Linked DNA regions of Homo sapiens: all the other regions are linked to region 2. The links come from fine-mapping of genetic effects on gene expression. A gene starts in region 2. Each other region holds a variant in brackets. All regions are shown on one strand. Distances are between the middles of the regions.

Region 1 (4,242 bases), 56 kb after region 2:
CCTTTGGTCCCCACCACTTCCAGTTTGAGCTCAATCTCCAGAGCAAATGTCTGTTTCCCCACCATTAGAGAAAGCTATGAGACTCACTACAACACCAGCAGCCAGCCTTGGCCATCCTTGTCCCCAAGCAAGGCAGCTGGAAGACTCTGAGGCAGCTCTGTGTACCTGGGGAACAGGGTGGCAAAATCACCAGAGCACCCCACCGCCTCGCTCCAAGCTCCTGGGTCTGTGGCAGCCCAGGAGAGAGCACTCGTGCTACAGGTACCCATGTGTGCCACTATCCAGGGCCCTGGAACCAGGGCATCCCTCTGTAGGACTTTTAGGAGCCCTTCCTACTGATGAGGCTAAAGGACCATGACTCTGACACAGTCTTGCAACCCAGTTTAAAGGTCTCCTCCCCTGTGAATCTTTCCATGACCAGCCCACCATCACCAATCTTAATAGCAGAGTGGCTGCCCCTGCTCTTTGTCCTCCTGGTGTTCATTCAGGTTCTCATTGTAATCACACTATTTGTTTAGAGGTCTCTGGGAGGACTGAAGAGTGACCTCTGAAAAGCCTGATCCCAAGACACATTCACACACTCCCCACCATCAGAAAGCTCAACAAGTTGGACTCCACACACTGTCTCAAGCTTCACCTTTGGTGACCTTCCCCCTGCCTGGGGCCCTGCCCTTCTCATATCACCATCATTTTATCTCAACCTCGTCTATATAAAATAATAGTAGAGAGAATAAAAGAGGGATGGGGACAGGGGAAGATTCTTTTACCCTTAAGATTGCCCTGTAATGAAAGTCCAGACCCAGGAATCCATTGGGATAGTCTTGCACATGAGACATGCAATATGACTTCTATGGCTCCAGTTTCCTGCTACAGAAAGGAGAATGAGCTCATCTTAATTTGTCGATCAACAAACACTGCTTGAAGCTTATTATGGACCAGCACCGTGTGGGGCACAGGAAGGAGGCAAGGAGGAGAGAAGAAATACAAGACATGGTCTGCATTCACATTAGATTCTGGTAGAGATTGTAGGTACCATAGGAGACTAGGGGAGGGAGAGAACACATAGATGGGAAAGTCTTCATGAAGCAGATGAGACTTAATAAGTCTTGACAAATGAATAAAATTGAGGTAAACGGGTGCTGATAGGAGAGAGAAGGGTGTTCCAAGTTGGTGGAACAGCATTCACAGATTCACAGGCTTCACAGGTTTGCCTTCATTCTCACCCTGTTTTGGTGCATTTTTTTCTAGAGCAAAGAGGGGAGTCTAGGTCTCCCCTTTCTCTCTTCCTCAAATTCCATTGGAAAATGATCAAAACAGGAATCCCAGAAAACTGCAGAGTCATCCTGGGGGGTAGATAATTATAGACCACAATGCTGATCTATAATATGGAGGGATGAATGTTGGATATTTATACATGTTAGATGGCTAAGCCTGGCACACATGGGGCAGTTGGAGCACTTCTGGGGAAGCATCTTGATTTTGCTCCAGACAGAGGCAGGAGCAGCCCTGTGTGTGACTGGAGGGTGACATTCATTTCCTTGTCCAATACAACCAGGTGGCAAGGTCCCAGCACATTTGCTGCCCATCGAGGAGGATATTTGCAGGCACGTACTTTTATTTTCTTTCTTAGTAGGTTTGAGGAGATCCGTGAAAGTTGAGAATCCTCCTAAAAGCCAGAGCCTCTAGTCTTCCGGGAAGTCTTGCACTCACACCAATTCAGCAAGGGTCCCCAGAGTGGCTGAGGATTCTGAACTTTCTGTTTCATGTTGGAGAAGAATACAAAGGAATCCAAGTGAGATTCTTTCCTCCAGTAAAAATGAGCACCTGGAAATGAATTCTCTCACACAAACTGTTTCTCCTGGTTGAACATTATCAGCCTCTTGACCTTGGCTGGAACTGAGTACCTTCACCATCGACTCATGAAATACAATTATCTGCTCCCTGGTTTTCTGATAGTAAACCAGGTGAAAAATGCAACTGTTGGCCGGGCGCAGTGGCTCATGCCTGTAATCCTAGCACTTTGAGAGACCGATGAGGGCCGATCACGAGGTCAGGAGATCGAGACCATCCTGGCCAACATGGTGAAACCTCATCTGTACAAAAAACACAAAAATTAGCTGGGTGTGGTGGCATATGCCTGTAGTCCCAGCTACTAGGGAGGCTGAGGCACGAGAATCGCTTGAAGCCAGGAGGTGGAGGTTGCAGTAAGCCGAGATTGTGCCTCCAGCCTGGTGACAGAGTGAGACTCTGTCTCAAAAAAAAAAGAAAAAAGAAAAAAAGAAAATGCAACTGTTGAGTTCACTATTGAGAAACCTTGATGCCAGAAAACAGGGGAGCCAGCAGCAGGCAGCTCATCAGACTCCAAACCTATTTTCCCAGTGGCTTGGGAGGGAA[C/T]TGAGAATTTTGCACTTTGGGGTGAACATTGGGTGATTAAACACTTAAATAATCATCATTGCCAATGCTGAAAAAATAAATGTGTGGCTTTCATGTACAATTTCCTAAAAATTTTTTGAGCTGCCATGTGGGGGTGGGCTAGGGTGCCCAAGTCAAGAGTCTAGAAAAGATGGTGCTGTCTTTCTCGCATCCAAGTAATATCAAGATCCATTCATTATCTCCCTTCCTTGGTTTATGGGTTTGTAATTCCCACCAACAAGGCTGGGAATATTGGACCCCATTCTGTCATGAGCCAGAAAGAAAGAAATACTCTCCTGGGAAGCCAAGTGCTCACTTGTGTGAAGTAAATTACCTCTTCTGCAGTGCAAAATTGGTGGGATCCTACAATTTGGGCCCAGGAAAACACTCCCTTGGGAGCAATCTGCTCAGCCACATGTGATAAATTCAGTCTATTTTTAAACTATTCTTTGGCATATCTGAGTATAAGCACAGGTGAAGATAACTGGCCAAAACAAGTCAATCAAGTTAACTTTTCCCTCTGTTTTGTCTGTTTCTTTCTAAACGCTCTATTTTCCCTAACACACACACCACACACATACACACACCCACACCACCTCTTGTCTTTGTTCCTAAGTCTCTCCTCCTTCCTCCCTTAAGCTTTCCCTCCTCTCCCTTTACAATTCTCCCTAGACCCTTCCTTACCCATCTTTCCTCTTCACTTTTCACATTACCACTCCTCTTCCCTGCATCTCTCTTTACTCCCACTCACCTCCTCTAAAAATGAGTCATGGTAAACAGAAAGCTCTGGCTTTTCGGCACAAATAAATAAGACCAAAAAAAAAATCATCAGGAAAAAAAAAAAAACAGGATATCTTCTTAATGCACAGTTTAAACCTTCCAAAGGATTAATAAAAATTTGGCATACATATGGAGTGTGAAGCTTGCATCTCTGCATTATAAATCTGACATCAACTCACAGATATAATGATTTTGGCTCTGTGCCTTTCTAAAAGGAGACAAAATGTTTGCAGTCATTATTGGCATTACTGTCTAACAAGAGAAAGGAAGACTCTAATTATGACTAGACAAATCATGAACAAGGTACATTTCATTGCAATCCTGGGAAAACAATGTATTGGGGAAAATTAATGAGGGCAAGGGGTAGATAAAAGCGCAATGTCTAATTTGCAGAATGTCCTCAGTGGCTCTTCCAAACCAGCCACCCTGGATTACAGGCCTCCTGGCTGTGTTAATGTTCCCCAAACTTTTCCAATCCAAGTGTCCCTCTGTGCCACCTAAGAGCGTCCTTGGTCACTCCATAGAGAAGCACCTAAAAAGAACAGTGAGCAAATTTAAAAACACCAAAAATATTCCCAGGAAAGTTCATGGTTTACAGGAATCTGGAAGGAATCCTTTGCACTTTGGGGTGAACATTGGGTGATTAAACACTTAAATAATCATCATTGCCAATGCTGAAAAAATAAATGTGTGGCTTTCATGTACAATTTCCTAAAAATTTTTTGAGCTGCCATGTGGGGGTGGGCTAGGGTGCCAAAAGAGTGGCCATGCCCTCATTTCCTGGTTTTATAAATTCCATTTTTCATGTAGCAGATTTTCTTAAAATAGGCTTGCATGGTTGTCTCCAAGGCCACACTGACATAGGTGGCCGAAGCAGGGAGATCGCTTGAGCCCAGGAATTCAAGACCAACCAGGGCAACATAGCGAGACCTTGTGTCTTAAAAAAAAAAAAAAATTAATTAGCTGGGTATGGTGTCGTACACCCATGATCCCAGCTACTAGTGAGGCTAAGATGGGATAATCGCTTAAGCACAGGAGGTCAAGGCTACA
Region 2 (4,242 bases):
AAAAGAGTGCTAGACAATTCTGATCATCCCCAGAAATCATTGAGTATCACAGAATAAACTTATGTAACTGATTTCTGACTGCAAAGAATCCTTGTGCCTACTTATGATTCCCAAGCCTCCCTCCTCTAACTAAAAAATAAGCAATTTTCATCTATACTCCTTGGAAATATAGAAACCTATATGTACAGACATGGTGAAGAGAATGGACAGACTAATTTTGAGCTATATAACTTGCTAGCTTAGTGACTTAAAACTAATGACTTCACCTTGATAAGCCTTAGTTTTCACATCTCTAAAATGGGACCATTAATTGTACCTACCTCTTAGGGTTAAATAAGATAATACAGGCCAGGTGCGGTGGCTCATGCCTGTAATCCCAGCACTTTGGGAGGCTGAGGCAGGCAGATCATGAGGTCAGGAGTTCGAGACCAGCCTGACCAACATGGTGAAACTCCATCTCTACTAAAAATACAAAAATTAGCCAGGCGTGGTGGCGGGTGCCTGTAATCCCAGCTACTCAGGAGGCTGAGGTGGGACAATCGCTTGAACCTGGTAGGCGGAGGTTGCAGTGAGCCGAGATCGTGCCACTGCACTCCAGCCTGGGTGACAGAATGAGACTCTGTCTCAAAAAACAAACAAACAACAACAACAACAAAAAGATATATATTATGTACTTAACCTAGTCCTGGCATTTATTAGACACACAGTAAATGTTATTGCTGCTGTTTCTATCTAGGCCCTATCCAAATCATTTGTTAATTATCACATTTTTATTATCTGTAATTTCTGATGGTCAAAATAAAACAAATAAAAGTCTTTTCCTCCCCCTTCTCCCATTTGCCCTTCCATTCAAGCATGATAATGTAAGCAGCTACCTGACCTGTGAGGAAAGATCCTAGAGGCTTAGAGAGAGAAGCTTTGGCCCAGATAAGACTCCCCCACCCCAAGTTATACCTTAGCAAAAATAGCCTAGGAGGTTTGCAGAGTGGGGTTCCCGCAGAAAGGCCCAGAGTGAAATGAATAACTGCTTCTTACCTCCTAACCTCTCATGCCCTCCAGCCCATTCTCCTTTCTTTAAAGGAGATCCAAAGAGGACTCATCCCCCACGGAACTGGCTTACTATGCCTTCAATGCACTTAGCCTAGCTGTACCAGCCTCGTTGTAATGCATGACTTTTGGTTTTGTTTGTTTGTTGCTACTGTTGTTTGGAGCTGGAAATGGTCCTGAAGATTCCCTGTAAAGAAGACTGCAAAGAGTGAACACTCCCCTAGGCGAATGTCCACTGGTAATAACACTTTGCTAAAGACCAGTAACTCCCCCCTTATTTCTGACACCCACCTCCTTTATAAACCAGGCCAAGAGAAATGGTCAGGGCTTCAACTAGGGCACTGCGGCTCTCACTCCCTCGAGGGCTACTGTTCACCATTCCGGGATCCTGCCAGGCAGCAAAACAACTGGACAAACTTCCCAGAGCTGCAACTCACAGAGTCTTTCCCTAACAGTTCCCATCTTGGACTATATATTAGAATCACCTGGGGAGAGGTTTTTTAAAATATTTGATTTGTATACATCTATGTAGGATTTTTTTAAGTACAGAACCCAGGCATCTGTACTTTTAGAGTCCCCCCGGCCACCCATTCTAATGTGCAGCCAGATTTGAGAATTCCTCTAAAGCATAGATATTCCCAAAAGTCCCAGCTGGAGAACTGCGATATCGTCTCTCTTGCTAACAATTTAATTATTTTACTGAGGCTTTAATTCATTTCCGGGGCACCTATAGTTAACAAAATGAGTCGTAAATCTTTTAGAGTGCCCAGGTCTAGCCATCCATGAAATTGTATTCAGGTACCCAAAAGCAAATGGAAGGGAATGAATGCAGCTCATTCAGATTCTGGGGCCTCCTCACCTGGGACACAGAACCTCCGCTGCCTAAGCTGCGGCTGGAGCTGGAGCCCGACCTGGAGCTGGAGCTGAAGCTGGAGCTGGAGTCAACACCTGGGAAAGAGCTGAAGCCGGGGCTGGGAATTGGAGGTCCCACATCCCCCAAATCCCCTGCAGCTTGGCCAAGGAAGAACAGAAGGGCTAGGAGAAATGAGAGGCCGGGCCTCATCTTGTCCTCTTAGCTGGAGCCGCTGGCTCTGCAGAGAGCCCAGGGGCTTCTTATAGTGCCCAGTGGTGATTTCCCCATGGCCAGCATGTAGGAAAAGAGGGAGTGGCCAGGGAACGTGTGAACTGCCCCAGGAGGTTCAGGACACCCAGGAATCTGAGTCATGGCCCACACCTTGTCAGTGAGGCCCACTCTGTGAGCTGCCCTTGGATCCAGATATCCCCTGCCAAACATTAACTCAAATGTGCTTTGTAAAGCCCAATATTTGGTTTCCCACTTGGTACTTCCTTGAAAGAGATGAGACCAAAGTAGTCTTTGTGGATGACACAGAGTTTGGAGGCTCCATGGAGGAAAAGCAACCCTCAGTCCTTTGCCTCACAGCACTTCTAGTGCTCTCCCCCATTTTACTGAATACTACTTTTCACAGACAGTTAGGGAACTTGCCTTAGGGACTGTGGCTCTCCTCCAGGAGCGACTGAGCTTCCCTCTTCAGTTCCTATTGCCCAAGTTGTCGTTGACCTGTTCCTTACAGTGACTGTTTCTAGACAAAGTTGTCTAACAACCCCACTCTGAAGGAAAGACCAGCAACGTTTTGTTCCCTGGCCAACCAGGTAGGACTCTGCCCTATCAAGTACTCACCACTGTATGCTTCATATAGGGAAGAGAAAACACCCAAATAAACAAAGGGATCCCGATGACCCAGTGCCCGCTCTCCCAGGCCAGGGCACTGCCTCAAACCCAGTCAAGGAGGACCCCAGGAGCAGTTTCTCTCTCCAGAAAACTTTGACCTCTATTGCCCCTGAGCTTCTTGTGAGCCAGCCAGGCATTCAAGATCTCAAGCTTATTCTTCATAAAACTGAGAAATAAGATGCATTTTCTCTTGCTCAGCAGCTCTGACCCTGGGCTCCAGGATCCATTTGCCCTGCTCAACATTTCACACACCTTTGTGACCTCTGCCTTCTTCCCTGGAGAAAGAAAAAGGTGTTAGTCTCGGTATTAAGACCCAGCTCTGGGCCGGGGATGCTGGCTCGCACCTGTAATCCCAGCACTTTGGGAGGCCAAGGTGGGAGGATGGCTTGAGCTCAAGAGTTGGAGACCATCCTGGGCAATGTGGTGAGACCCTGTCTCTACAAAAAATGAAAAAAATAGCCAAGTGTGGCGGTATGCACCTGTGGTCCCAGCTACTTGGGAAGCTGAGGTGGGAGGATCACCTGAGCCTGGGAGGTTGCGGCTGTAGTGAGCCATGTTCACACCACTGCACTGCAGCATGGGTGACAGAGTAAGGCTGTCTCAAAAGAACAAAAACAAACAAAAAAGCTGTGTCACAATGAGTCGGTGGCCTTGAGCATGTCACTTAGCCCCTCTAGGGTTGTAACAATTCCTAAATTGTTTGAATTAAATGAAATATTGTATGGGAAGTTGCTTATGACTTTTGACGTGCCATAAAAATGTCAGCTTTTTCATTGTTTGTTTAATTTCCTAAAGACTAGATCAATATGTAAGATTGCTGGGTTCAAAACAAGGAGAGAAGGTTCATGCCCCACTCCACCCCACCCCAGAAGCTCCACACAAACTCTCAGAATAAGCACAGTGCTAATGTGAGAAACAGGGTCTTAAACCCCTGGTACACTATTCAGAAACTGGGGTGGTGGGGAGGGGGAAGGGGAGACAGGAAAACCACAAATGGATGGATAGAGAGTGAAGAAGAACAGATAGGGAGAAATGTGGGCTGTAAAGTTCATTGTTCTCTGTGGGAAGCAGTTCAGCCTTGGCCTCTTTGGTCAAATGTTCTAACCACTTAGATCCCCAGTCCAAGGCAGGGAATGCATACAGAATGTGTGAGAATGAAAACTGGGAGACTGAATCCATTATTCTAAGATTGAATGCAATGAATATGGACATAAGGAGAAGAATGTGTCTCTACCTCCCAGCACAATTCCCCTCTTCCTCCCGATTCCCACCAAAACAAATGGCAAATCTGTTCTCATTTGCTAGTAGCCTCTGCATGTGGCTGTAATGAGCCTTCCTTGTACCTTTTTTCAAGGAGCATGTTGGTGCCCTGTCAGAAAGAAAATCTCATTAACAGTGGTATAGCCTGTAGTCATGACTACCTTTAAGGTCTCCTATGGCCAATT
Region 3 (4,242 bases), 120 kb after region 2:
ACCTGGCAGGTTTACAGTTGTGACTGGAGTTCTTCACACCAGGTGTACTGAGTTGAAAGGAACAATTATGCAGCGGGTCCAGAGAGGAGCCCTCATTTATCTTGCAAATCGATCACTACCCATTATTTTGCTCACCTCCATTCTCCCATCCCTGCTCCGACCCCTTAGACCCAGACAGCAGTAGTGCCCCTGGCAGGAGCCAGCTGTGTCCCTCAGCTTCACTTGACCTCAGGGAAGCAGTGGAACTACATTCTCCAAAATGTTCCCTGCGCCGGTGTCTGAAGTACCCCCCGGAAATGATGAGGAAATGTTTCCTTCATCCATTTTTAATTGCTGCAGATTATAATTACATTCTTTGGGAAATAAATACTTAACCACCTTCCTTTAGATTTTTTTTCAGGCCCAGGGAGGACTGTGATGTAAAGCTTTCAGTTAATAGCTTAGTTTATTCTGGTGTCATTTCTTTTATTTCCTTTCAGCTTGTTATTTATGGTTTAAATTTTTTGCACCCTGGTGCTTGGCCTGCTTTCCTCAGGAGGATAATTAAGAAAAAGAATTTAGATGTTCAGGCATTTTTTACATTGGGCTGCAGGCAGTAGAAGTGTTCAGGGGAAGAGAGGGAAATGTGAGAGAAAGGAGCAAACACCACTGCAGCCACCACCAAAACCCCACAATAAAATCCATTACTTCCCTAAAATGCATTAAGGTGTTATTCTCGTCATTTGGGAGGGCACAACCCATTATCCTAACACTCAATGGATTCCCCTAGACAAATAGCTAAGTGACAGGACTCTTGCATGTGAATAAATTACCATAGAACTCCTCAGTGACCAAACAGTCCTATAATTGCAATGGGATCGACATTCTCCAAAGTGTGTCTGCCCCACAGCCAACCCGATCTTGCTGCATGTCTATCGGCCTGTAAGACAAATGAGATCAGAACAGAAGCCAAAATAAAACTGAAAGACTACTGCTCCTGTTACACAAAGCAGTGAGTGTTTAATTAGACAGGGGCCATGAATTGCAGCCTTCAAAATAGAGGGGAAAAAAAAAACAAACTTTCTCCATGAGTGACTCTTCCTACCCTTGAAGACAATCATAATGAAACTGACAAATACACCTTGGAGGCCAGCTTCACGAATCAAATCGATTTATTTAATAATTTAGGAATCACTTCCAGCCATCTCTCCCATTAAAATCTGAAGGGCCATTGTATTCTCTATTTCCTCGGTTCCTTTCCTTTCTCTTAGTTATACCTCACTGCCTTTAATAAATAAGTAATACAGAGAGAAGAAAACACTTATCTGGAGTACCTCGACTTCGCCTTCACCCTGCAGGGCTCTCTGATTCTTTTCTACCTGGAAATAAATGGAGTCAGGAGCAATCTTTTCTCCCTCAAAGGCTGGGGCGGCAGGGTTAGGCCCCCTAAGTGTGGTCGGTCATAGTAGCCCCGGAGCCCAGGGCACTGCTCAAGCCAGGAGAAGAGCTGCAGAATAAATAACGTGTTAAGACAAGCTCATAGAGGCAAGGGCTCATCCCAAAGGCTGAGTGAGCGTCCACAGGCTACTCTCCAGCTAGCAAATGGCAGGAAACTACTGCAGCTAGTAGGAAAATTCCAAAAGCATCAAAGTAAACTGTAATCATTTGTAGTTTATTGCTCAAAAGTGAGGGCTGCTGAACCCAATCGCAGTTATATTTCCTCATGATGCTTTGAAGAAAATGGGAAAGAGATTGCTATTATACAGTAGGTCTCAGAAAGCAAACTTGCTGATGGAGCAGGAGC[G/A]TAGACGACTCAGCTCGGCCCCTCCCTGCTCTCCGGCTCTGGGCAATGCATTCCTCCTTCTCGCCTTGAGGCCACAGGAGATGTGGGGGTCCCACAGAGCTGCTGATCACCTGCAGCGGGGTGAGATCTTGCTCCCTGCAGAGCCACCCTAATGATAACACAGGAGCCATACTGGTCATGGACAATACTGACTTCATCCACCACCCTAAGCCTCCAGGGTTGAGCTGGAGGCACAATTAACATTCATTTCCCAGCTCCTGTCTGAGCTCCCTTCCCTTGGCCAGCCATTTCTACTATTCACAGGTCCTTCTCCAGCCTTTAAAGAGTTACTCCCCAGTGGAAAGCTGCCCCTCTGCCTTTCTCCAATCCTGGTCTGTAGTCTAATTCCTTTTGGCCCTTATAGGCATGAACCCTCGCTGCCAGGAATTTCCCCCCAGCACTGGAGGACATGCATGTCTTCTCAGTGATCATCTGATCATGTACTGTCTTTTTCTGTGCCTGTCTCCACTTGCCAGACTGAAAGCTCCTTAAGGGCAGAAACAAGCCTTCTTGGTTTTGTATTCCCATACCTAACATGGTGCACAGTATGTGCGTAAGAGACATATGTTAACTAAACGTTGGGGGAAGCTGAGTTGGCTCACTGCTGACAGATATAGAGCACTTGCCACTGGTTTATGGCATAAATTGTGCTTCCTGGGTTTTTCAGGTGGGAAAAAGAGAAAGAAGAGGGAATCACAAATGTCTGTCTCTCCTGGAAACCAGAATCCAGAGTCTTCACCCCACAGCTGCTGGGAAGGTAATTTATCCCTGCCAGGAAAACATGGGCACCAAGCCACGTAGCAACTTCTCTCCCTCCACAAATTAATCATGATTCCGGTGTTAATTCCATAAATAATTCATGAAGTCAAATATAAAGTATCACAACACTCACATCAGCTATACTGTGCAGCTTCATACGCAGGAGAAATTTAAACAAACCTGGAAGCTTCTCTGGTTTTCAGGAAGTTCCGATATGGCTAAATGCACATTAAATTTAGCCAAATGCCCTTTGAAAGTAAATATTCATTGAACACCCTGTCTGTGCTAGGTACGATGCTGGGTGAAACTGAATAAAGGACAGTCTTTGCAGTAAAGGACACAGTCTCTCCCCTGCAGTCAAGAAGAGGAAGCGAGAAAACATCACAGAATGTTAAGCGCTGAACAGATAACACAGTGAGGTTGTATATATAGCACAGTGGTTAAGTCTCTGTGCTGTGCAAACAAACCTGGATTCTAATCCTAATTCTTAGCTGTGTACCCTTGAGCCAGTTAATCTCTCTAAGCCTCAATGTCCTCTCCTGTCTCTTCATCTGCTAAGTGGTATGATGACAATAATAGTATCTATCTCACAGGGTGGGCCTACAGAAAAAAGGCAATTAATGTTGGAGATTAACATGATTAGCATTGTAACATTAACATTACAATATATAACACACTCTTGGCGAGTCAGAAAAGGTTTCTTGGAGAAGGTTTCAAAGGCTGCCTGGGGGAGAATGAGGAATGTGGGGGAAAAAAACAGTTCCATATTTTGTGGGGCCTAGTGCAATATCAAAGTGCAGGTCCCCTTTTTTTCTGTTTTAAGACTTCCAAGAGAGTGACAGCAGAGCATTGAAGCAAGTCAAAGTCCTTCTAAGAAAGGACACTGGGCACCTGCATAGGTCGTAGCCCCAGATGCTGTCCCTGAGAGAAGGCATGCTCCCTACAGTCCCAAACATGGGATTGGTACTTGCAGGACAGATGGTTTTGACTTCCTAGAGAACAAATTCTAAGCCTCAGCTATCCTCCAAATGATGCTTCCGACTGAACCGCGATGTCAGAATTGACTTTCAAATTCAAGGTAGCTATATAATCTAGTGGCTAATATCAGGTTGTGGGCACATATGTAAATGATGCAAATGCACCTCCCATTCCTCTGATACTCTCTCTGTCATGCACAAGGGAATGCATGAGGCCACTTCCCCAGATCCCTTACTGGGTCTTAGATTCCTTGGGAGAAAAAAATTTTCAATGGGAAGTACAGAGTCTGAGAATCAGGAGTCCTGGGTACCAGCTCCAGGCCCTCCACTCAGGGCAAGTCACCTTGTGTCTTCGAACACCAGTGTCCTCACCTGTGAAATGCAGAGACAGAATCACTGATCTCTAAAGTTCTTTCTGGATAGACTATTCCATATTTCTGTGGAATAGCAGCAGGAGAAAGAAATAAAAGCCTGCAAAGCCAGAGTAAAGTAATAATAATTTTAAAACAAGCTCTATGCCTGCTGATTTTTTAATATACCATTTCTGGTCTGGAAAAAAAAACTATATTATGCAAAATAAAATGCGGTTGAAAATTCCCATAATGTCCCCGCGTGTGTTTCATTTAGCAGGTGTCGTGTATTTCATACCATTCAGGCTTTGTGTAATAGGGGCTCTGAAGCCCA

Direction of the effects. Positions count from the first base shown, and alleles are read on the strand shown. Sizes are in standard deviations (SD) of each study's normalised expression. Not every link is listed here.
For the expression in caudate of the gene that starts at base 2,134 in region 2, allele G in region 3 goes with a lower level than allele A (moderate effect, 0.50 SD a copy in GTEx).

Evidence for each region. PIP is the estimated chance that this variant, and not a neighbour inherited with it, causes the effect. A credible set is the group of variants that fine-mapping cannot tell apart.
Region 1: its variant is the best candidate, but not a certain one, in a credible set for the expression of OLFM4 in whole blood (TOPMed, PIP 0.67).
Region 3: its variant is the best candidate, but not a certain one, in a credible set for the expression of OLFM4 in caudate (GTEx, PIP 0.72).

What each region holds. Positions count from the first base shown.
Region 1 is chr13:52,970,852-52,975,093 of GRCh38, reverse strand. No RefSeq gene overlaps it. Among named protein-coding and RNA genes, the nearest start is that of OLFM4, 56 kb to the left of the region's middle. The variant C/T (reference allele first, on the strand shown) is at 2,395.
Region 2 is chr13:53,026,705-53,030,946 of GRCh38, reverse strand. OLFM4 (olfactomedin 4) reads right to left here and starts at 2,134. Exons shown (of 5, transcript NM_006418.5): 1 at 1,907-2,134. The coding sequence starts at 2,110.
Region 3 is chr13:52,902,239-52,906,480 of GRCh38, reverse strand. No RefSeq gene overlaps it. Among named protein-coding and RNA genes, the nearest start is that of PCDH8, 56 kb to the right of the region's middle. RefSeq lists an enhancer at 1-410. The variant G/A (reference allele first, on the strand shown) is at 1,784.